Linked DNA regions of Homo sapiens: all the other regions are linked to region 3. The links come from fine-mapping of genetic effects on gene expression. A gene starts in region 3. Each other region holds a variant in brackets. All regions are shown on one strand. Distances are from middle to middle.

What was found. PIP is the estimated chance that this variant, and not a neighbour inherited with it, causes the effect.
Region 1: its variant is fine-mapped to the expression of SEMA6C in prefrontal cortex (GTEx, PIP 0.94).
Region 2: its variant is fine-mapped to the expression of SEMA6C in whole blood (TOPMed, PIP 0.98).

The regions. Positions count from the first base shown.
Region 1 is chr1:151,074,339-151,082,298 of GRCh38, reverse strand. All of the region lies in intron 1 of GABPB2 (GA binding protein transcription factor subunit beta 2), which reads right to left. Among named protein-coding and RNA genes, the nearest start is that of GABPB2, 7.6 kb to the right of the region's middle. The variant G/A (reference allele first, on the strand shown) is at 4,697.
Region 2 is chr1:151,120,798-151,128,757 of GRCh38, reverse strand. GABPB2 (GA binding protein transcription factor subunit beta 2) reads right to left here. Exons shown (of 9, transcript NM_144618.3): 9 at 3,216-7,960. Among named protein-coding and RNA genes, the nearest start is that of SEMA6C, 22 kb to the left of the region's middle. The variant CTAAA/A (reference allele first, on the strand shown) is at 3,731.
Region 3 is chr1:151,144,687-151,152,637 of GRCh38, reverse strand. SEMA6C (semaphorin 6C) reads left to right here and starts at 6,007. Exons shown (of 19, transcript NM_030913.6): 1 at 6,007-6,205. It also overlaps a transcript of LYSMD1 not described here. RefSeq lists silencers at 5,530-5,589, 5,800-6,259.

The DNA of each region.
Region 1 (7,960 bases), 70 kb after region 3:
TTGAGACCAGCCTGGCCAACATGGTGAAACCCCATCTCTACTAAAAATACAAAAATTAGCTGGGCATGGTGGCATGTGCCTGTAGTCCCAGTTACTTGGGAGGCTGAGGCAGAAGAATCGCTTGGACCCGGGAGGTAGAGGTTGTGGTGAGCCGAGATCGCACCACTGCACTCCAGTCTGGGCAACAGGGTGAGACTCCATCTCAAAAAAAAAAAAAAAAAAGAAAAAGAAATTACCACTTGTCAAGTTTTTGTGCAGTATCAAAGAATACTCACTGTTACTGGAAAAAGTTATTATAATACTCTTTCCTTCGACAAGTACATATTGTAACAGAATGAAGTAGATATAAGAATGAAGCTATCAACTGGGTGCGGTGGCTCACGCCTGTAAACCCAGCACTTTGGGAGACTGAGGCGGGCAGATCACCTAAGGTCAGGAGTTCGAGAGCAGCCTGGCCAACATAGTGAAACTCTGTCTTTTCAAAAAATACAAAAGAATTAGCTGGGCATGGTGGTGCACGTCTGCAGTCTCAGCTACTCGGGAGGCTGAGGCGGAAGAATTGCTTGAACCTGGGAGGTGGTGGTTGCAGTGAGCCAAGGTCACGCCACTGCACTCCAGCATGGGTGACAGAGCGAGACACCATCTAAAAAAAAAAAAATAAATAATAATGAGAATGCAGCTGTCTTCTATTAAGCCAGAAGTTAAAGAGAGTTGAAAAAATATATAAAACAATGCTCTTGTTCTCACCATTTTTTAACTCTGAAGATATATATATACGGTTTGTTTCTTTGTTTCTTTTTTGGGGTTGAGACAGGGTTTCGCTGCTCTGTTGCCCAGGTTGGAGGGCAGTGACACAATCTCGGTTCACTGCAACCTCCGCCTCCAGTGTTTAAGTGATTCTTGTGCCTCAGCCTCCCAAGTAGCTGGCATTACAGGTGTGCACCACCATGCCTGGCTAATTTTTCTATGTTTAGTAGAGACGGGGTTTCACCATGTTGTCCAGGCTGGTCTCAAACTCCTGAACTCAAGTGATCCGCTGGCCTCAGCCTCCCAAAGTGCTGGGATTATAGGCATGAGCCACCACACCAGGCCTGAAGATATATTTTTTATAAAAATGTTTTATGTTGGCCGGGTGTGGTGGCTCATGCCTGTAATCCCAGCACTTTGGGAGGCCGAGACGGGCGGATGACGAAGTCAGGAGACCGAGACCATCCTGGCTAACATGGTGAAACCCCGTCACTACTAAAAATACAAAAAAATTAGCTGGGCGTGGTGGTGGGCCCGTGTAGTCCCAGCTACTCGGGAGGCTGAGGCAAGAGAATGGCGTGAACCCGGGAGGCAGAGGTTGCAGTGAGCCGAGATTGAGCCACTGCACTCCAGCCTGGGGGACAGAGCGAGACTCCGTCTCAAAAAAAAAACCTTTCTTTTTTATTTTTTTTTTGTGAGACATAGTCTTCCTCTATTACCCAGGCTGGAGTGCAGTGGCGCAATCTCGGCTCACTGCAACCTCCAACCTCCACCTCCTGGGTTCAAGTGATTCTTGTGTTTCAGTCTCCCGAGTAGCTGGGATTAGAGGTGCCACGCCACCATGCCCAGCTAATACTTGTATTTTTAGTAGAGATGGGGTTTCACCATCTTGGCCAGGCTGGTCTTGAACTCCTGACCTCAAGTGATCTGCTTGTCTTGGCCTCCCAAAGTGATGGGATTACAGGCGTGAGCCACTGTACCTGGCCTAAACCCTTTTTATTTTATTTATTTATTTATTTATTTATTTATTTATTTATTTAGAGATGGAGTTTTGCTCTTGTTGCCCAGGCTGGAGTGCAGTGGAATGATCTCAGTTCACTGCAACCTCTGCCTCCTGGGTTGAAGCGATTCTCCTGCCTCAGCCTCCCGAGTACCTGGGATTACAGGCATGTGCCACCATGCCCAGCTAATATTGTATTTTTAGTAGAGACAGGGTTTCTCCATGTTTGTCAGGCTGGTCTTGAACTCCTGACCTCAGGTGATTTGCCCAGCTTGGCCTGCCCACCACCATACCCAGCTAATTATTGTTTTTTTTTTTTTTTTTTTTTTTTTTTTTGAGATGGAGTTTGGCTCTTGTTGCCCAGGCTGGAGTGCAATGGCATGATCTTGGCTCACCGCAACCTCTGCCTCCAAAGTTCAAGCGATTCTCCTACCTCAGCCTCCCAAGTAGCTAGGAATACAGGCGTGTGCCACCACGCTTGGCTAATTTTTGTATTTTTAGTAGAGATGGGGTTTCACCACCTTGGCCAGGCTGGTCTTGAACTCCTGACCTCGCGATCCACCAGCCTCAGCCTCCCAAAGTGCTGGGATTACAGGCATGAGCCACTGTGCCCGGCAATGTTTTATTATTATTATTGTTATTATTTTGTGTGTGTGTGTGACAGAGTTTTGCTCGTTACGCAGGCTAGAGTGCAATGGTGCAATCTCAGCTCACTGCAATCTCCGCCTCCTAGGTTCAAGCGATTCTCCTGCCTCAGCCTCCCGAGTAGCTGGTATTACAGGCATGTGTCACCATGCCCAGCTAATTTTGTATTCTTAGTACAGACAGGGTTTCACCATGTTGGTCAGCCCCTCGAACTCCTGACCTCAGGTGATTCGCTGCCTCGGCCTCCCAAAGTGCTGGGATACAGGCCTGAGCCACTGCGCCCGGTCGCAAAATGTTTCTGAGCAGTGTTTTATACTGTAGTCTGCTTTCATATCTACATTTATCGTATTTATATATTTATTTACTGAGACAGGGTCTCACTCTGTTTCCCAGGCTGGAGTGCAGTGGCATAATCATGGCTCACTGCAACCTCTGCCTCCTGGATTCAAGCGATTCTCTTGCCTCGCCTCCTGAGTAGCTGGGATTACAGGCACCTACTACCACGCCTGGCTAATTTATGCATTTTTAGTAGAGGCAGTGTTTCACCAGGTTAGGCCAGGCTGGTCTTGAACCCCTGACCTCAAGTAACCCGCCAGCCTCAGCCTCCCAAAGTGCTGGGATTACAGGCGTGAGCCACTGCACCTGGCCTATCACTCTTCTTTAATCATCTTTCTGTCACATATCAATACTACTAAATGACAACCAACCCAAATCTGTCATCCCATTCTTTCAACAAGCCATGATTTTAAAGCCCTATTTCTTACTATATAGAGATATAATTAAACTTTGGGATTAGAATGTAAATAGGGTGCTATATTTACCTCCTAATATAAGAAAGATATAGAAATGCGTTCTTCAAGGCTATTTTCTCCTCCTATCCTCAGTTACTCTTTTGAGTTAACCTGAAGCATCCATCTTAAGAAAAAGTAAAATGTAGCCAGGCACAGTGGCTCACGACTGTAATCCCAGCACTTTGGGAGGCAGAGGCAGGCGGGTCACTTGAGGGCAGGAGTTGGAGACCAGCCTGGCCAACATGGTGAAATCCCGCCCCTACTAAAATACAAAATTTTACTACCCCGCCTGTACTAAAAATACAAAAATTAGCCAGGTGTGGTGGTGCACGCCTGTACTCCCAGCTACTCAGGAGGCTGAGGCAGGAGAATCACTTGAACCTGGGAGGCAGAGGTTGCAGTGAGCCAAGATTGTGCCACTGCCCTCCAGCCTGGGTAACAGAGCGAGACTGTCTCAAACAAACAAACAAACAAAAACAAAAAAAGAAAAAGTAAAATGAATTTTTTTTTCTATTTTTTTTTTGAGACGGAGTCTTGCTCTGTGGCCCAGGCTAGAGTGCAGTGGCGCGATCTCGGCTCACTGCAAGCTCCGTCTCCCGGATTCATGCCATTCTCCTGCCTCAGCCTCCTGAGTGGCTGGGACTACAGGCACCCGCCACCATGCCCGGCTAATTTTTTGGATTTTTAGTAGAAGCACGGTTTCACCGTGTTAGCCAGGATGGGCTCGATCTCCTGAACTCGTGATCCGCCCGCCTTGGCCTCCCAAAGTGCTGGGATTACAGGCGTGAGCCACCGCGCCCAGTGTAAAATGAATTTTTATTCTTACTCTTTTTTTTTTTTTTTCGAGTTGAAGTCTCACTCTGTCTCACCCAGGCTGGAGTGCAGTGGTGTGATCTCGGCTCACTGCAGCCTCCACCTCTCAGGTTCAAGCAATTCTCCTGTCTCAGCCTCCTGAGTAGCTCGGACTACAGGCTCGTGCCACCACAACTGGATAATTTTGTATTTTTAGTAGAGACAGGATTTCACCATGTTGGTCAGGCGAGGCTTGAACTCCTGACTTCAGGGGATCCACCTGCCTCAGCCTCCCAAAGTGCTGGGATTACAGGCGTGAGCCACCGTGCCCGGCCTTTATTTTTATTATTCTAAAGAAAATTATTATTTTTTGAGACTGAGTCTTGCTCTGTTGCCCAGGCTGGAGTGCAATGGTGTGATCTTGGCTCACTGCACCCTCAGCCTCCTGGGTTCAAGCGATTCTCCTGTCTCAGCCTTCTGAATAGCTAGGATTAGGTGGCACGTGCCACCATGCCCGGCTAATTTTTGTATTTTTAGTAGAGACAGGGTTTCACCATGTTGGTCAGGCTGGTCTTGAACTCCTGACCTTGTGATCCACCTGCCTCGGTTTCCCAAAGTGCTGGGATTACAGGCGTGAGCCACTGCGCCTGGCCTCTCTTTTTTTTTTAAAGCTGAGCCCAGCCATGGGTTTATACCCTCAAATACCTATGAGTGGCCGGGC[G/A]CGGCGGATCACAAGGTCAAGAGAACAAGACCATTCTGGCCAACATGGTGAAACCCTGTGTCTACTAAAAATACAAAAATTAGCTGGGCGTGGTGTTGCATGCCTGTAGTCCCAGCTACTCAGGAGGCTGAGGCAGAAGAATCACTTGAATCCGGGAGGTAGAGGCTGCAGTGAGCCGAGATTGCGCCACTGCACTCCAGCCTGGTGAGAGAGTGAGACTCCATCTCAAAAAAAAAAAAAAAAAAACCTATGAGTTGGATAAATTCCTCCCCTCCTGAGGTCCCAGGATAATGTGGGGCTCCTGGGCCTGTCAGAAAGTCAGAAAGTGACACTCTTTACTTACCACAGATCAGGAACCCTGTACAGGGACTTTAGACAAGGTATGAGGCCAGTTTTCCCAACGGGCTTTAATTGGCTTTGTAAGTCTTATGTGAGATTCCTTTTACGGAACAAAGTTCTTTCAAAGCCAATTTAAAAAGCCTATGTGAAAAATCATTATTCTTGCTGCACTTTATACAAATAATCAGACCAAGTGTAATCCCAGCACTTTGGGAGGCCCAGGAGGGCGGATCACGAGGTCAGGAGATTGAGACCATCCTGGCTAACACAGTGAAACCCCGTCTCTACTAAAAATACAAAAAATTAGCCGGGTGTGGTGGCAGGCACCTGTAGTCCCAGCTACTCGGGAGGCTGAGGCAGGAGAATGGCATGAACCCAGGAGGTGGAGCTTGCAGTGAGCCGAGATTGCGCCACTGCACTCCAGCCTGGGCGACAGAGTGAGACTCCATCTCAAAAAAAAAAAAAAAAATCAGACCAAGTTTAATAAAGCCAATCTATTTTACCATGATTTGCCTTTAGTAAAAATGGGAGACTGGCAAGGCACAGTGGCTCACACCTGTAATCCCAGCACTTTGGGAGGCTGAGGCGGGTGGATCACCTGAGGTCAGGTGTTCGAGACCAGCCTGGCCAACATGGTGAAAGCCCGTTTCTACTAAAAATACAAAAATTAGCCGGACGTGGTGGCATATGCCTGTAATCCCAGCTACTCCGGAGGCTGATGCAGGAGAATTGCTTGAACCCAGGAGGCAGAGCTTGCAGTGAACCAAGATTGTGCCACTGCACTCCAGCCTAGGTGACTGAATAAGACTCTGTCTCAAAAAATAAAAAAAATAAAAATTCTAGTCTCATCAGTTGTTTTTAAGTTTTTTTCTGCAACTTAGATTAACTCTGCTTATTCCTGTGAACCAACCAGTGATCTCTGGCTGCTGCTCACAAGAAACAAAAGGAATGGGTAATGTAAAAATCTGGATCAATATTCTAATTCTGGGCACATACTGGAATCAGCTAGTAACCCCAAATCAGCTTGGTTCCAACAGTTGCCCAGTTCATGGAAAACCTTCTTATTTAATTTACTTGGGATAGTTTTGCTTATTTTGCTTTACTGTTGAGGAGTATATTGCTGTTGTACTCTTTGTGTAGGAATGCAGGATAAGCTTACTGAATGTTTTCTTAAACTGAACACCTTTTAATCTTCCAGATATCACCTTTTGTTGGAGTTATGAATAGCTCTCACCATACTGATGCTTTCTGACTGAGCTCCTCTCTGAACCCTGAATACAAGAGACCCTAAGAGTCAGGCAGGAATATCATCGCCCCTATTCACCCTGAAAAAGTTACAGAAGATGGATCTTTATTTCTTTGTAACCCCTAGGATTAAGGGTTCTCTAATAAAAGGGATGGGAGAAATGTCAGAGGTGTTTGAACCAGAGCAACTCCATCTTGCATAGGAGTTGGGTGAAATAAGGCTGAGACCTACTGGGCTGCATTCCCATTAAGGCATTCTTTTTTTGTTTTGTTTTGTGTTTTTTTGGGTTTTTTTGGGGGGGGTTTTTTTGAGATGAAGTCTCGCTCTGTTGCCTAGGCTGGAGTCCAGTGGTGCAGTCTCAGCTCGCTGCAACTTCCGCCTCCCAGGTTGTAGCGATTCTCCTGTCCCAGTCTCCCACCTGGCTAAATTTTTTTTTTTTTTTTTTTTTTTTTTTGAGACAAAGTCTCGCTCTGTCGCCCAGGCTAGAGTGCAGTGGCACAATCTCGGCTCACTGCAAGCTCCGCCTCTTGGGTTCACGCCATTCTCCTGCCTCGGCCTCCCGAGTAGCTGGGACTACAGGCGCCCGCCACCATGCCCGGCTAATTTTTTGTATTTTTAGTAGAGATGGGGTTTCACCATGTTAGCCAGGATGGTCTCGATCTCCTGACCTCGTGATCTGCCCTCCTGGGCCTCCCAAAGTGCTGGGATTACAGGCATGAGCCACCGTGCCCGGCCAATTTTTTGTATTTTTAGTACAGATGGAGTTTCACCGTGTTAGCCAGGATGGTCTTGATCTCCTGACCTCTGCCCGCCTCAGCCTCCCAAAGAGCTGGGATTACAGGCATGAGCCACTGCGCCTGGCCCTTGTTTTGTTTTTTGAGACTGTCTCACTCTGTCGCCCAGACTGGAGTGCGGTGGCACGATCTCGGCTCGCCACAACCTCTGCCTCTAATGCTCAAGCAATTCTCCTGCCTCACCCTCCCGAGTAGCTGGAATTACAGGCGTGTGCCACTACTGCCTGGCTTATTTTTGTATTTTTAGTAGAGACAGGGTTTCACCATGTTGGCCAGGCTGGTCTTGAACTCCTGACCTCAAGTGATCCACCCACCTCGGCCTCCCAAAGTGGTGTGAGCCACTGTGCCCAGTCAGTTAAGGCATTCTTAGTTACAGGATGAGATAGGAGGTCAGCACGAGATACAGATCATAAAGACTTTGCTGATAAAACAGGCCATAGTAAAGAAGCTGGCTAAAACCCACCAAAAGCAAGATGGCGACAAGAGGACAAGAGTGACCTCTGGTTGTTCTCTCTGCTACACTCCCACCAGTGCCATGCCATGGCAGCTTACAAATGCCATGGCAATGTCAGGAAGTTACCCTATATGGTCTAAAAAGAGGAGGCTGCTGGGTGCGGTGGCTCACGCCTGTAATCCCAGCACTTTGGGAGGCTGAGGAGGGCGGCTCATGAGGTCAGGAGATCGAGACCATCCTGGCTAACGTGGTGAAACCCCGTCTCTACTAAAAATACAAAAAAAAAAAAAAATTAGCTGGGCATGGTGGCGGGGGCCTGCAGTCCCAGCTATTCGAGAGGCTGAGGCAGGATAATGGCGTGAACCCAGGAAGTGGAGCTTGCAGTGAGCCGTGATCACGCCACTGCACTCCAGCCTGGGCGACAGAGCGAG
Region 2 (7,960 bases), 24 kb after region 3:
GCAAAATTTACTTTGGGGAGCTTATAGGAAATGCTGCTTGGATCATATTTTTCTTCTCAGTTTCTTTTTTTTTTTTTTGAGACAGAGTCTTGCTCTGTCGCCCAGGCTGGAGTGCAGTGGTGCAATCTCGGCTCTCTCAGCTCACTGCAATCTCTGCCTCCTGGGTTCAAGCCTCCTGCCTCAGCCTCCCGAGTAGCTGGGATTACAGGGATGTGCCACCATGCCCGGCTAATTTTTGTATTTTCAGTAGAGATGGGGTTTCACCATGTTGGCCAGGCTGGTCTCGAACTCCCAACCTCAGGTGATCTGCCCGAGTTTGGCTTTTTTTTTTTTTTTTTTTTTTCCGAGATAGTGTCTCACTCTGTCACCCAGGCTGGAGTGCAGTGGTGCAACTGCGGCTCACTGCAAGCTCCGCCTCCTGCCTCAGCCTCCTGAGTAGCTGGGACTACAGGCGCCTGCCACCACACCCAGTTAATCTTTGTGTTTTTAGTAGAGACAGGTTTTCACCATGTTAGCCAGGATGGTCTCAATTTCCTGACCTCGTGATCCGCCGGCCTTGGCCTCCCAAAGTGCTGGGATTACGGGCCACGGCACCCGGCCCTCAGTTTCTTAAATGCAAATCTGAGATGAATTAAGCTGCCCAAGGCTAGTGAATAAAATAGCATTCTGACAAAAGGGAAATCACAGAGGAAAGTACACTAATTAACTCAATGTAGAAACTGTAGTTTTAGAAAGAACAATTTTAGCCAGGGTGCCATGGCTCACGCCTATAATTCCAACAGTTTGGGAAGGTAAGGCAGGTGGATCCCTTGAGCTCAGGAGTTCAAGACCAGCCTGGGCAACATGGTGAAACCCTGTCTCTACCAAAAATACAAAAATTAGCCAGGCATGGTGGTGTGCACCTGTAGTCCCAGCTTCTCAGTAGGCTGAGGTGGAGGATTGCTTGAGACCTGGAGGTCGAAGGTCGAGGCTGCAGTGAGCCAAGATCATGCCACTGCACTCCAGCCTGGGCAAGAGTGAGACCCTGTCTTTAAAAAGAAAAAAAAAAAAGGACAATTTTTACAAGTGTGTGACTCTGCAAAGTCAACCTATTTTTACAACTATATGATGAGGATAATACTCACCTTACAAGATGGGTATTTATATGTATATGCAGAGTACCTAGCACATTGCCAGACATGTAGCAAAAGCTTAAAACATGGTGGCTATTGTTATTTATAATTTTGGGCCCTTTCCCAAACTTTCCTTTCCTTTACAGCACTACCCTTAAACTTTAGGACTGGTTATAGGAGCAGACTGCAACCCCACACTTTTGTTCAGAAGTCTCCCATAGTCTTAACTTACTCAATTACCTATCAAATGTCTTGCACAAGCCTTACACAGGTGTAGTTATCACTGGGTTGCTCCCACTTCAGCCTTCACCTGTATTTTTTACCTATTGATCTCCTTGGAGTAGAGGGTTCTTTTTTACAGAGGAAGGAAGTCTTAGGAAAGTTGCCCTAGTTCATAATTTTTCCCATTACTTAAGACTATCACCCAGCCGGGCACGGTGGCTCACACCTGTAAGCCCAGCACTTTGGGAGGCCAGTGCGGGTGGATCACCTGAGGTCAGGAGTTCAAGACCAGCCTGGCCAACATGGTGAAACCCCGTCTCTACTAAAAATACAAAAATTAGCTGAGTGTAGTGGTGCATGCCTGTAATCCCAGCTAATAGGGAAGCTGAGGCAGGAGAATCACTTGAACCTGGGAGGCAGAGGCTGCAGTGAGCCAAGATCATGCCACCGCACTCCAGCCTGGGCAACAGTGTGAGACTCTGTCTCAAAAAAAAAAAAAAAAAAAAAAGAGTATCACCCATCAGAGAACTCTAGGTTCCTATCTCTCTAGTTCCCTCCAACTTTCCCATCTTGATGATTTCTCTCACCAGGATTTAATTCAACAAGATTTTTAGTTCTTTGGTTCTTAAGGCTCCACAAGTTCCTGCTTTTTTTTCTGTCAGCACAGCCAAGACTATATATATTAATAAAGTACCTGCCAGAATTACTTTCTATTACTTGAATATGTGCACAGCATTTGCTGACTATATGTATTTACCAAAAAGAAATTATCTACATGTACCCTAGTACATGGTAGGTGTCCAATTTCCTAAATATTGACTTTGAGAACTTACTTGAGATTCCAGTCGCTGAACACAGATGCTTATATGTCCTTAGCTTTGGACAGGCTCAAAGCTAATTTTGTAAAGAAAGGTATCCTTCTTGCCAACAAAACAGCTTTTCAGAACTCTATACACTAGATAGGATACCCATCTTGCTAGTCAAATTGGTCTGTTCACCCCGGCTATCAATGGGGATTGTGCTACTATCAGACTGATCCTCCTATTTTTAAATATAAATGTGTGCTGATTTTGGACTAAGATAGCAGCAAGCACCCTATTAACCAAGAATAGCTGAGAAGCTGGCAAAGTAAATCTACTCTTTCCAAGCACTCCTGAGTCTGATGTTTTTCCCCATACGTCTCAGTATTGACTTTACTCCCACACAAGGCACATAATCATTTTCTTCAGCTACTTTTCTCCTCCCTTGGTTGTTTGCTTTTAGGGAAGGGAGTGGGGAATGAGAGAAAGAAGGAAAATGTACATTTAACAAGCTGGTCAAAAGCTCTCCTCATTCTCATTTCATTTCTTACCTCAACTTGCTCTGCCTGTCAAGAATACCAGGCTGAGAGCGGTGGATAAGGAAAAGGCAATGGCCATGCATGGGTTAGTAGATCTATACCCCTCCCCCTTCAGTTAGCTCAGTTGGACAGGGAAAATGAGCTCTGTGGTTCACCTGTCATTAGAGAATAGATACAAATTTGGCCGGGCTCGGTGGCTCACGCCTGTAATCCCAGCACTTTGGGAGGCCGAGGCGGGCGGATCACGAGGTCAGGAGATCGAGACCATCCCGGCTAAAACGGTGAAACCCCGTCTCTACTAAAAATACAAAAAAATTAGCCGGACGTAGTGGCGGGCGCCTGTAGTCCCAGCTACTTGGGAGGCTGACGCAGGAGAATGGCGTGAACCCGGGAGGCGGAGCTTGCAGTGAGCCGAGATCCCGCCACTGCACTCCAGCCTGGGCGACAGAGCGAGACTCCGTCTCAAAAAAAAAAAAAAAAAAGAGAATAGATACAAATTTTGCCCAGGAGATGAAAACAAATTCAATGACACCCTGAAATGGTCGGCTTTGACATTTTATTGAGAAACATTTTTATTTTAAATGATAGTACAAAAACTGTATATATAATATAGATCTGTATAAGTATATATACATACAAATGCTCATACACACATATACACACAAACTTGCTCATCAGAATAAAACCCTAAATAAAGAAGTATATTTAAGTTTTTCTAAAAATACGCTGTACATAAAGCTGTCAGACAACCTGAAAAACTGAGGACATTGTGAGAACAGTCTGGGCGCATCCCCCCACACACACACCTGCCGCAGTACACACACAAATGGCCTTGACAGAAGGACAGCACATGGGGCAAGGTCAGGGAGAGAGCTGCTACCATCATTGTTGCTAGAACAAGATGTCTAAAGCCAACTAGAAAGCACAGGATATAGAAGGTGACCTAGATTAACTTTCAGAAACAAACCACCTCAGAATAAACAAAAAATATGTGGTAGGGAAGGAGGGGAACGGAGAGAGAAAAGACAAGGCCCAGAGATTAGAAATGACCTACTAA[CTAAA/A]TTCGAATGCCTGGGAAAGCCTCAATGAGATAGGAACAATGGAATCACAAAAGCAGAAAAGGTAGGAGGAGGGGGAGATAGGGAATCACAATTTCCTGTCACTAACATGCCAAACTGCTACTGTAGAGTCTAGGAATGTCACCTCACCCCCTAATACTAAAGAGGCTAAAAAATAAGACAAAAATTTAAAAAGGGCAGCATCAGAGACTTAAAAAAAATTGGCATAGGAAATAATAGTACTACTCAGAAGGGGTAGTACTTCTGAGATATAGTCACCACATAAAATAGAGACAGATAAGAGCCTAGAGTGCATACAGGTGGTCATCACATATAGTCCATTCTGAAGTTCCTTTTCTAGCTATCCAGAGATGGGTTTGCACAAGGAGTAGAGAAGAGGAAGCCTTCTCTAATAAATTAGGACAAAAACTGATTCCCACTCCATATTAAACTTTCAGGAAGAGTTCAGTAAATGCATCAAATTTTCCAGCTCTGGAGGTCTGTAATGATAGGAGAGAGCCACACAAGCTTTCTTAAAATGGTCATCATCATACTGGTGAGAAAAAAAAAAAAAAAAAGAGGCTGGGCGTGGTGGCTCACACCTGTAATCCCAGCACTTTGGGAGGCCAAGGAGGGTGGATCACGAGGTCAGGAGTTCGAGACCAGCCTGGCCAATATGGTGAAATCCCGTCTGTACTAAAAATACAAAAATTAGCGCGTGCCTGTAATCCCAGCTACTTCAGAGGCTGAGGCAGAAGAATCGCTTGAACCCGGGAGACAGAGGTTGCAATGAGCCAAGATCATGCCACTGCGCTCCAGCCTGGGTGACAGAGAGAGACTCTGTTTAAAAAAAAAAAAAGAAAAGAAAAAAGAAAAAAAAATCATTTCTCAAACTGATATTTCTTTTTTTCCTTTTTCTTTCTTTTTTTTTTTTTTGTGAGCCACCGCGCCCGGCCTCTTTTTTTTTTTTTTTTTTCTCACCAGTATGATGATGCGCCACCACCCCCGGCTAATTTTTGTATTTTTAGTAGAGACTGAGTTTCACCACGCTGGCCTGGCCTCAAGTGATCCTCCCATCTCGGCCTCCCAAAGTGCTGGGATTACAGGCGTGAGCCACCATGTCTGGCCAGCAGCTTTACTTATTTTATTTTATTTTATTTTATTTTATTTTTTGAGACCGAGTCTCATTCTGTTGCCCAGGCGATCTGTTGCAGTGGGGCGATCTCAGCTCACTGCAAGCTCTGCCTCCTGGGTTCACGTCATTCTCCTGCCTCAGCCTCCCGAGTAGCTGGGACTACAGGCACCCACCACCACGCCCGGCTAATTTTTTGTATTTTTAGTAGGGCCAGGGTTTCACTGTGTTAGCCAGGATGGTCTCAATCTCCTGACCTCGTGATCCACCTGCCTTGGCCTCCCAAAGTGCTGAGGTTACAGGCGTGAGCCACTGTGCCCGGCCAGCAGCTTTATTTTAAAGTAGACAACCATCCTAAGCTCGAAGTTTCTCTTGCTCAAGCACCAATTCTGATCCATTTGTCTGTTTTTTCTTTCTTTCCTTCTTTTTTTTTTTTTTTTGAGACAGAGTCTCGCTCTATTGCCCAGGCTGGAGTGCAGTGGCACAATCTCAGCTCACTGTAAACTCCACCTTTTGGGTTCAAGCAATTCTCCTGTTTCAGCCTCCAGAGTAGCTGGGACTACAGGCGTATGCCATCATGCCCAACTAATTTTTGTATTTTGGTAGAGACAGGGTTTTGCCATGTCGGCCAGGCTGGTCTCGAACTCCTCACCTCAAGTGATCTACCCACCTCAGCCTCTCAAAGTGCTGGGATTACAGGCGTGAGCCACCGTGCCCAGCCATTTTTGTCTGCTATTTGATTCTTAATAATCCAACCTTGCCAATAAACAGTTGGAATCCTCTAACCCAGAAGATCTAAGCAATATTTCCCCAACTTCCATGACTAATCCAGAAAGATATGCAAAGTCATGAAATGGTATTGCCATTAATGTATTCAATATTTAATTTCTAACTACTTCAAAGCATCCTCACCTGCCATTCTCTCCATGGCAATACAATTGGAGATCAAATCCTATTTCCCTTATCTGGGATGCCAAGAGGACCGTTCCGAGTAAATAAAAATCAATGCCTTTTTCTTACTTATTTTCAGATACCTCCATTCTCTCCCTCTCTACCCTAGCCTCTCCTCTAACAAACTGCCCTATCTCAGAGACCCATCATAAAAAATGACTTGGCCTGTATTAGAGATTTTGGGGGTTGGGGAGGTAGGAATGATAGCTTCTGCAGAAAGAACAATAAGATCTGCTAAAGAATTCCCCCAAAAAAGTGGTGACTGTATAGTCAGAAGGGCATGTTGGATGGACATTCTCTGCCTTTAGTCAGTAGCCACCCCAGAGAGTGAGCTGGTTGGGCCTGAATATCATCTGCAGAGTTAACCTCCTTCCCCTTAATGGGCGAGGTGTGGGGGAAGAGGGATTAAAGTCAACATATGCACCGAGAACATAAATAAAAGATATCTAAAATGATACTTGGTTCCTCTATCGTTAAAGTAAGGCTCCGAAATCCCACACATAACAGCTTCTTGTTAGCACCTGGTTCCCAAAGGGACTCAGAAAAAATAAAAACATTGCAAACAGGAAAAGATTATTTGACAGCAGATAGAACAATTTCATCATCACCCTTACCTAGGCTACTCCCCCTCACATTTTCCTGTCATCCCCAACAGCCCAGAATATTCTCCAATCATCTGGGAAGTGTTAAGTACTCAGATCTGTGGAGAAAACAGATCTGTGGAGAAAACCTAGCTAAGGTGGCCAGTAGCCAAGGTTAATTTCCAAACTGATATTTTTGCCTATAAATCTCTAATAACCAATTCTGTTTGTTAAATTTGGTTTGGGGAGTTAAATTTTCAGTCTATTTTGAGACCCAAGTGATTCTGCTCCTCTGTAACACTGCAGCAAATTACTTCACTAATCAAGGTAAACAGAACCATGTTAACTGTCAGGTTTTTTCCAAATTAAAAATGCATGTTTTCCCCATGACTGCTAATTAAGAAAACCATATTCTAAACAGTCATTCGAATGTTTACTTGGCACATCTCCCTCTGGTTTCTTCTAATTTATAACAAAGCAAGCAAGTCTAGAATGATGAGGGCCCAGTTTCAAAGGCAATAACCTCTGTAACATAACCTGTTCATAACCTCTCTCTCTCCATCCATATTCCCTTTCTTTGGGAAAAACTCCATGCTGACATACAAAGAAAACCCAGCAGGTAGGTGGTCAGGCGCAGTGGCTCACGCCTATAATCCCAGCACTTTGGGAGGTCGAGACAGGTGGATCACCTGAGGTCAGGAGTTCAAGACCAGCCCGACTAACATGGAGAAACCCCATCTCTACTAAAAATACAAAATTAGCCAGGCATTGTGGCGCATGCCTGTAGTCCCAGCTACTCGGGAGGCTGAGGCAGGAGAATCACTTGAACCCAGGAGGTAGAGGTTGCGGTGAGCCAAGATCACGCCATTGCACTCCAGCCTGGGCAACAAGAGTGAAACTCCGTCTCAAAAAAAAAAAGAAAAAGAAAAAGAAAACCCAGCAGTTAAACACTTTCCAAAAGTGTCTGGGCAGAGGAAGTGTAGGCATAGTGGGAGAGAAAGGAAGAAGACAAAGTAGCCAGAATCTTTGGTTCTTTATGGCACTGACAGTTCTTATTCCCTTTGTCAACACACACTGAGCACCCTATAAGGCACAAAGCTCTGTAACAGACCCAAGCTTAAGGAAACAGAGCAATTTACTCATGCCAGATCAAAAGGAAATAAAACTAAACAACATCATCAGCATTTACCTCCGACCCCCTTTTTGTTGCACATAAGAGGATAAGATATAAGCTCCACAGAAAAGCACAATATGTCCTAAATGACACTTAGAAAATTCAACAAAGTTTTATAAAATTAGAGTCTAGGCTGTGCGCGGGGTGGCTCACGCCTGTAATCTCAGCATTTTGGGAGGCCAAGGCGGGTGGATCACCTGAGGCCAGGAGTTCCAGACCAGCCTGACCAACATAGAGAAACCCTGTCTCTACTGAATATACAAAATTAGCCGGGCGTGGTGGCGCGTGCCTGTAATCCCAGCTACTCGGGAGGCTGAGGCAGGAGAATAGCTTGAAACCGGGAGGTGGAAGTTGCGGTGAGTTGAGATCACACCATTGCACTCCAGCCTGG
Region 3 (7,951 bases):
ACCTCTGCCTCCTGGGTTCAAGTGATTCTCCTGCCTCAGCCTCCCAAGTAGCTGGGATTACAGGCGCGCACCCCCACGCCCGGCTAATTTTTGTATTTTTAGTAGAGACGGGGTTTCACTATGTTGGCCAGGCTGGTCTTGAACTCCTGACCTCATGATTCGCCCAGCTCGGCCTCCCGAAGTGCTGGGATTACAGGTGTGAACCACCGTGCCTGTCCTATTTTTATTTATTTACTTTTTTGAGATGGAGTCTCACTCTGTCGCCCAGGCTGGAGTGCAGTGGCACGATCTCGGCTCACTGCAACCTCTGCCTCCCAGGTTCAAGCTATTCTCCTGCCTCAGCCTCCTGAGTAGCTGGGATTACAGGCGCGCGCTACCACGCCCAGCTAATTTTTTGTATTTTTAATCGACACGGGGTTTCACCATGTTAGCCAGGATGGTCTCGATCTCCTGACCTCATGATTCGCCTGCCTTGGCCTCCCAAAATGCTGGGATTACAGAAATGAGCCACCATACCTGGCTTGTTTTTTTTTTGTTTTTGTTTTTTGTTGTTGTTGTTGTTTTTCCTCTGAGCCATAGGATGTTTGTTTGTTTTTAATCTTTGATGCATTTATTTCTTCCTCTACTTACTGTATGCCAGGCATTACAATTAAGTGCTGGGGATAAAAAGATAAAAGACAAGCTTCCTGTCTTTTTTTTTTTTTTTTTAAGATGGAGTTTCGCTCTTGTTGCTCAGGCCAGAGTGCAATGGCGCGATCTTGCCTCATGGCAACCTCCACCTCCCGGGTTCAAGTGATTCTCCTGCCTCAGCCTCCTGAGTAGCTGGGACTACAGGCGCCCGCCACCATGCCCGGCTAATTTTGTATTTTTAGTAGAGACGGGGTTTCTCTATGTCGGTCAGGCTGGTCTTGAACTCCCAACCTTAGGTGATCTGCCCACCTTAGCCTCCCAAAGTGCTGGGATTATAGGTGTGAGCCACTGCGCCTGGCTACTTCCTGTCTTTAGACTAAGTGGTAAACATGAAAAATCCAAATGGAAGTATCCAATAAGCAATTGTATACATGAGTCTAGAACTCAGGAGAAAGACCTGAGTTGAACACCTAGATTTTATGGTAAGCAACATATAAACAGTTTATTGTGGCCGGGCGCAGTGGCTCACACCTGTAATCCCAGCACTTTGGGAGGCCCAGGCGGGCGGATCATGAGGTCAGAAGATCGAGACCATCCTGGCTAACACGGTGAAACCCTGTGTCTACTGAAAATACAAAAAAAAAAAAAAAATTAGCTGGGCATGGTGGCAGGTGCCTGTAGTCCCAGCTACTCTGGAGGCTGAGGCAGGAGAATGGTGTGAACCCGGGAGGCGGAACTTGCAGTGAGCCGAGTGAGCCACTGCACTCTAGCCTAGGTGACAGAGGGAGACTCATCTCAAAACAAAACAAAACAAAACAGTTTATTGTAACTGTTGGTTTTGTAACTGTTCTCATTGTCGGATTATCTTGACCAATGAGAATGGGTAGAGAAGAAAGAGGTGGCTAAGGACATGACCATAGGGAACACCAGCATTTAGAGAGGTCAGAGAAGGCTAAGAAAGGTCATATTAGGCTGGGTGTGGTGGCTCACACCTGTAATCCCAACACTTTGGAGGCTGAGGTGGGCAGATCGCTTGAGGTCAGGAGTTCGAGACCAGCCTGGCCAACATGGCGAAACCCTGTCTCTACTAAAAATATAAAAATTAGCTGGGCGTGGTGGTGGGCGCCTGTAATCCCAGCTACTCGGGAGGCTGAGATGGAGAAGCGCTTGAACCCAGGAGGTGGAGGTTGCAGTGAGTGAGCCAAGATTATGCTACTGCACTCCAGCCTGGGGCGACAGAGTGAGTCTCTGTCTCAAAAAAAAAAAAAAAAGAAAAGAAAAGAAAAGAAAAGCCATATTAATAGAAGTGAAACTATCCATTCATTAAAAATACATATTTATTAAGCCCCTAGTCTTTGTTAAGAGAAAGAGGGACCTCAGGAGCCAAAAGAAGAAAGCATTTCAAGGAGGGGGGAGTCAACAGGTCAAATGGCACAGAGAGGGCAAAAGGATAAAGACTGAAGAGTTGTTCATTGAATGTGACCAGGAGGTCGTTGGTGGCCTTAATGAGAGCAATCTCAGTGGACTGATGGGGACAAAAACTAAAATGATTGAGAATGAGAATCATGAAAATGGATATAGCAAGTATAGGTAACTCTAGAAGCTTAGTTATGAAGGGAAGAGAAATCGAGTGATGACTGGGTGCAGACAAGGATCAAGAGAAAGTTTGGAATGTTTTCCTTTTAATCATGGGAATTACTTGAGCATGTGTATATGCTAAGGGGAAAATATCAGTAGAAAAGGACAGGTTAAGACTGGGAATGGTGGCTGACGCCGGTAATCCCAGCAGTTCGAGAGGCCGAGGCAGGAGAATCACTTGAGCCTAGGAGTTCAAGACCAGCCTGGGCAACACAATGAGACTCTGCCTCTATTTTTTTTTTAAGTTAATACTTTCTGTGTGCAGGCACTATGCTACAAGGAAAGGATACAGTGTTGAGCAAGATAGACAACCAGGGACTGCATACAACTTACAGTAAAGTCATAGGTGAACCTTCGACAGGTGATACGGATGGCATTCACTAGGATGAGAGAGACATGATGCAGGTAAGTATATCTGTAGGGAGCAAAAAGTTGGTGGAATTCTCACTTTATTATCTCTGTTTTCTCTGAAGACGGATGAGGGTTTTCCTGAGATGAACAAGGAAATGGTAAGGAAAGGAACTTGCAAAAAAAGGAGGAAGTTTGAAATATCTCCCTGGGGATTGGAAGAGAGTGCTTTTCCAATCCAATCTGTGGGACTGTGTGATTTCCTTTTTTTGAGATGGAGTCTCGCTCTGTTGCCCAGGCTGGAGTGCAGTGGTGCGATCTCGGCTCACTGCAAGCTCCGCCTCCTGGGTTCAAGCAATTCTCCTGCCTCAGCCTCCCCAGTAGTTGGGACTACAGGCGCACACCGCCACGCCCGGCTAATTCTTTTTATTTTAGTAGAGACGGGGTTTCACTGTTGTTGCCCAGGCTGGTCTCGAACTCCTGAGCTCAGGCAATCCACCCGCCTCAGCCTCCCAAAGTGCTAGGATTACAGGCCTGAGTCACTGCGCCCGGCCAGGACTGTGTGATTTTCTTCAAAACACTAAGGGAGTAGGAAGAGAGGTTTTTTATTTTTATTTTTATTTTTTTAAGAGTCTCCCTCTGTGTCACCCAGGCTGGAGTGCAGTGGCACGATCTTGGCTCACTGCAATCTCCTGTCACCTGAGTTCAAGCAATTCCCCTGCCTCAGCCTCCTGAGTAGCTGGGATTGCAGGTGCCCATCACCACACCCGGCTAATTTTTTTTTGTATTTTTAGCAGAGCTGGAGTTTCTCCATGTTGGCCAGGCTGGTCTCAGAACTCCTGACCTCAGGTGATCTGCCCACTTCGGCCTCCCAAAGTGCTGGGATTACAGGGGTGAGCCACCTCGCCCAGCCAAGAGAGTCATTTTGATTTGTCCTTCAAAATAGCTCTCAGATTCATGTATTTCTTTCTAAATCTGTTCCCATCACCCTTGTCTGATTGTCCCTCTCCCCTCACCTTTAAACCTTGTTTACTTGCTAGTAGGTCTCTGTCTTCTTGCTTAAAAAAATAAAAAAATACAAGTTGCACCCTTTTTCAAGAATTTAAAATGACGTCCTACTCCTGTCAGATGATTTTAACCAGCTCACCTAGTCATTCCAGGCCTTCTGTAATTTGTCTTCCCCTTTTCCCTCCCCTTGCTCCTAACTAGTGCCTTTCCCACACACCAGCCTCACAGGACCTTTTTTTTATCCATGCTGCAGGCTCCTTGCTAACCAAGTAAAAGCTTTTGCTGAAGCTGTGTCCCTCGGGAACATTTTCTTCTTTTGCACCAAGCCAACTCCCACCAAAGTTTTCCTGTCCTTCATGATAAAATGTATCCAGCATCTTTCTGTGCAGTCTTCGGAGAATATTTATTGTCTTCTTTGCACATTTGGAAATTTATGTTCAATGTAGCTTTTCTTTTGAGACTTGGTGTTGTCTTTTTAATAGTTTAGTACTATTAAATATTTAATATTTAGTACTGTCTTTTTAATAGTTTAGACTTTTTAATAGTTTAGTATGTGCAAATCTTATTTTAATTCAAATATATTATCATTTTCTTAAAGTCTGGAACCACAACCCACAGTGGATTGTGTAGTAGATTGTGTCTCAAGTAAGTGTTTAATACTTACTGGATTGAACTGAGATTTGAGCTGGGTCCTAAAACTTTAAATGAATTACACCTTAATCCCCACTCACTAATCTATTCCATAAGCATGTATCTGAGTACCTAAACCCTGTGCTAGGAGCTGAGGAGATTTCTTTTAACCTCTCAGTGCCTCTGTATTTTGAGGTGTCTTTCTCTGAAAATTTCTTTCCAGCCTTTAAAACAACCCCAACTGTCTGACAGTTTGTTGAATTGCCTTGGACCCAAGATCCCTCGGCCGTTAATTCTGTGTAGATATTGTCCCTGTTTATCTTCTTCTATTTTTTTTAGATCTGACTTTACTGAGTTACTGTTCATCTTACTGGTTCACCTGGCCTTAAATCTGTCTCTCTGTCTCTCTCTTTCTCTGTATGTGCGTGTGCACATGTGTGTGTATGTTTAGGTCTCTTGTGTACTCGCTGTGGGGCTTAGCCTAGTTGTTGATACTCCCCTCCCTGATCACAGTCCAGTTAAGGCTGGCCTAAAGTGGCAAACCCCTTCCCCCTCCTTTCCTCTAGTCCAGAGTCCAAGATGTGGGTAGAAGTGTTCAGTCAGATAAAACTATCTGAGAATGCCAGTGTCTCCCAGGCCACCCACTTTCCTGGAGAATTTTGAGAATGTCTTTTGTCCCAGCCCCACATAGAGAAGAATCCTACCAGGCAATACCAAGGTACCAAGCAATCCTGTCTGTAGTAGTTTATTCTTCCTCCTCACTGACATTCCCAGGGGCTTTATGAAGGGTGGGGAGGGAGAAGGGGCAGTTTTGCTGTTTGGAGGGATGTCACGGTCCTCTGAGGAAAGGTGGGACGTATGTCTGTGGGGCAGGAAGGCTGTGTGGGTTACTTTATCAAGTCTTAGCGTTGCTACTCTTTGTGCCTTTCTCTGAGTCAGTTAGTCTTGATTTCCACATCTGTTTTGGCTTCAGCCTCTCTCACCTGCCCTCTTCCATTACCCAACAGCCTGACTGCTAGCTAGTTCTTGCCATAGTGGCCCAAACTCATGCTGCTTTGTAGAGGTGGGAGGGGAGGAGATCATGGAAACAAGGGAAACCTCCTGCTGACACCTTCCTTTCCTTTCCCAGGCCTCCAGCCCCCACGCGCATGCTAGGCCTCCTTATCCGGGTCAGGACGAACCAGAGGAGGCCTACGGGGAGAAATAAGGAGACAGAGGGACAACGCATAGAGAGGAGCAACAGAGAGTTGGGGGCAGAGTCAGGGAGATGCGGGATGCGCCCTCGGGAGCAAGGTCGCCCAAGCCGTATAGGAGGGGAAGGGAGGACGGATCGCGCAGGCTCTGACAGCCCAGCCCAGCCCCGCGAGGCTCCCAGGTTTCCTGTCTGTTTCTCCTCCCAGCTCCTCTTCCTCTCTTGGGAAATTTCTCCCCAGAGCCTCTCCTGTGCCAGCCTGTCTCTGCTTCTGTATGTATTTCTTCCTCTGCCCGGTGTCGGCGACTGTCCGTGGGTCTCTCCATCTCGCGTCTGTCTCTGGTCTCCAGTTCAGCCTCCCGGCCTGGCCCTCTGGGTGGACGGTGCTCCTGGCGCCCCTCCCCGGGCAGCACTATTGGCGGAGAGGTGACGAGAAGGCGGTGTCTAGCCGCCCTCCGAGGGCGGGATTAGTCGCGGCGACCCAAAGGCGGGCAGGAGGTGGGCCCGGCTGGGAGGCGGGCGGGGCCACTGGGGCCGAGCCCAGAGCCCCGGGCGGTCGCATTGTTTTCCTCCGCGGATCCGCGGCTGGACTTGGACCCAGGGCTCTCCCGACAGCGCCCTGGAACCCAAATTCAAGCACCATCCAATTCGGACGCTCATCGCATCTCGCCTGAGCACAACCACGGATTGCGAACTCAGCGCAGCGCGTGGCCGCTGGCCGCCCGCGGCGATCTCGATCCCGCTGACCCGAATCCTGGAGCAAGTACCCCGGGCAGGGAAGGGGCTGCGGGGAGGCGGGGAGGGAGCAGGAGGGCGCGGCCGGCGGGGGGCAAGCTTCTGAAGCGCTAGGGGACCAGGGAGGTGTCGGCGCCCGGTGTGCCTGGCTGACGGAGAGGGTCAACGAAATTGGGGTGCAGGGAGGAAGGAGGGACAGTGGCCGAGCCCCGTAACTGTACTGGTGAGAGCAGAGTCTGGGCACCTCGTTCAATTGGGCTTTCGTCGAGTCGCATCCCGCTGGACTGGGAAGCGCGAAAAGGGATTATTTGAGGCGCGCTCCGTAGAGAGCGTGGAAAACCTGGCCCCTTGCTTTCCCAGCAAGGAAACTAGGGCTCCGAGACCCACGGAGAACTAGACCCTCCTGACGCCCCTGAAGGGATGGGAAGAGGGACGCATCGTTCCGGACTTTGTGTCACGGGTGCTCCTCTGTCCTTGTGCAAGCCGGAATCTGAGCACCCTCTGAAGGGTTGGCTCGTGCAAAGAGGCGGCGAATGGGGCCCTCGAGCAACATCGGTCCCAGCGCCTATCTCCTTCCTTCAGCCCGCTCGGCCCGGGGCTTTGTTAGACTGAGGTCTCCCAAGGAGGACATCCGAGCTGGCAACTGCCTCCTGAGCCCACGGTCCCCACTGAGCGCCGGCCTCAGGCCCGCCCTCGTCGGTTCTCAGCCTCTGGCCCTGTTTCCCTGGCCTGGGAGACCCGCCTCCGCTCCCCAACCCCCGCTCCTATCCCCTCTTCGTCTGCGCCTGCAGGCCCCTCCAGCCCCTCCTCTCGCTAACGTGGCTCTGGGACCCGGTCCCGGCCCAGACTCTGCTACCGGCCCCTCCTCGGAGCCCCGGATCCGGTGAGGGGGAGACAGGTCGAGCCCCTGGCCCTAGGCCCACCTCTTTTCGAGGCTTTAGACACCTGGATTGTCCTGGTTGGGGGTTGGGTGGGAAGGAGGGTAGGTGCTGAGTGTGGGGCTAAGAGCTAAGAGTGGGGGAAATGGCTTGGAGAAAGGAAAGCTCCGGTTCCACAGGCTCCTTGGCGCGACCCTGCTCCCTCTGAGGAAGGTGGACTGGGGCGGGCGACCAGCCCAAAGGCTTCCTGCTATTGTCCCCAGCCCAGTCTCCCCTTCTCCATCCCTTCCACAGCTCTCCTAGACTCTGGCTGTGACCCCAGCCATTCCCCAGAGGTGGCTTCGGGGCCAGGAGAGAGAAGGGCTGTTTCCTCTTCCCAGCAACGGGAGGATCTGGAAAGGGGAGAGTCGGCCAGGTCTCTCCCATGTGCTTCAGATGGGGTGTGTGAAGCAGCTCGGATTCTTCCAGGGCAGAGTGATCTTTTCTCCAGGCCAGGAGTTGAGGAGCTGACCAGATGCTGCTTCCCAGAAACAGCTACAAGAAGCCCTCTTAAAGGTGTATCATAGTTGAGTCTAGAAGGCCAATGCAAAGGCCAGCCAAGTGTTTGTAGAGGCTGGACTAATCCAGCCTAAAGTGGGGTGTGAGTGTGTGTGTGTGTAGACTGAGTGGAAGGGAGGCACAGCCTGCTCTCTCAGGGAGGAAGGAAAGGGTTGAGGGTGCTTGCTATCAGATCATTTTGCCTGGAAATGAAGAGCATGTAAATGAGATGCAAATTAGCCTCTATTGTCCCTAGCTAAGGCGCTTTTGCTAAGAAGGCTGTTGGATTCTGAGGGCCTTAACATGGGAGTGGTCGCCATGCCCCACAAACTCTCCCAGTGACCCCCTTTGCCAA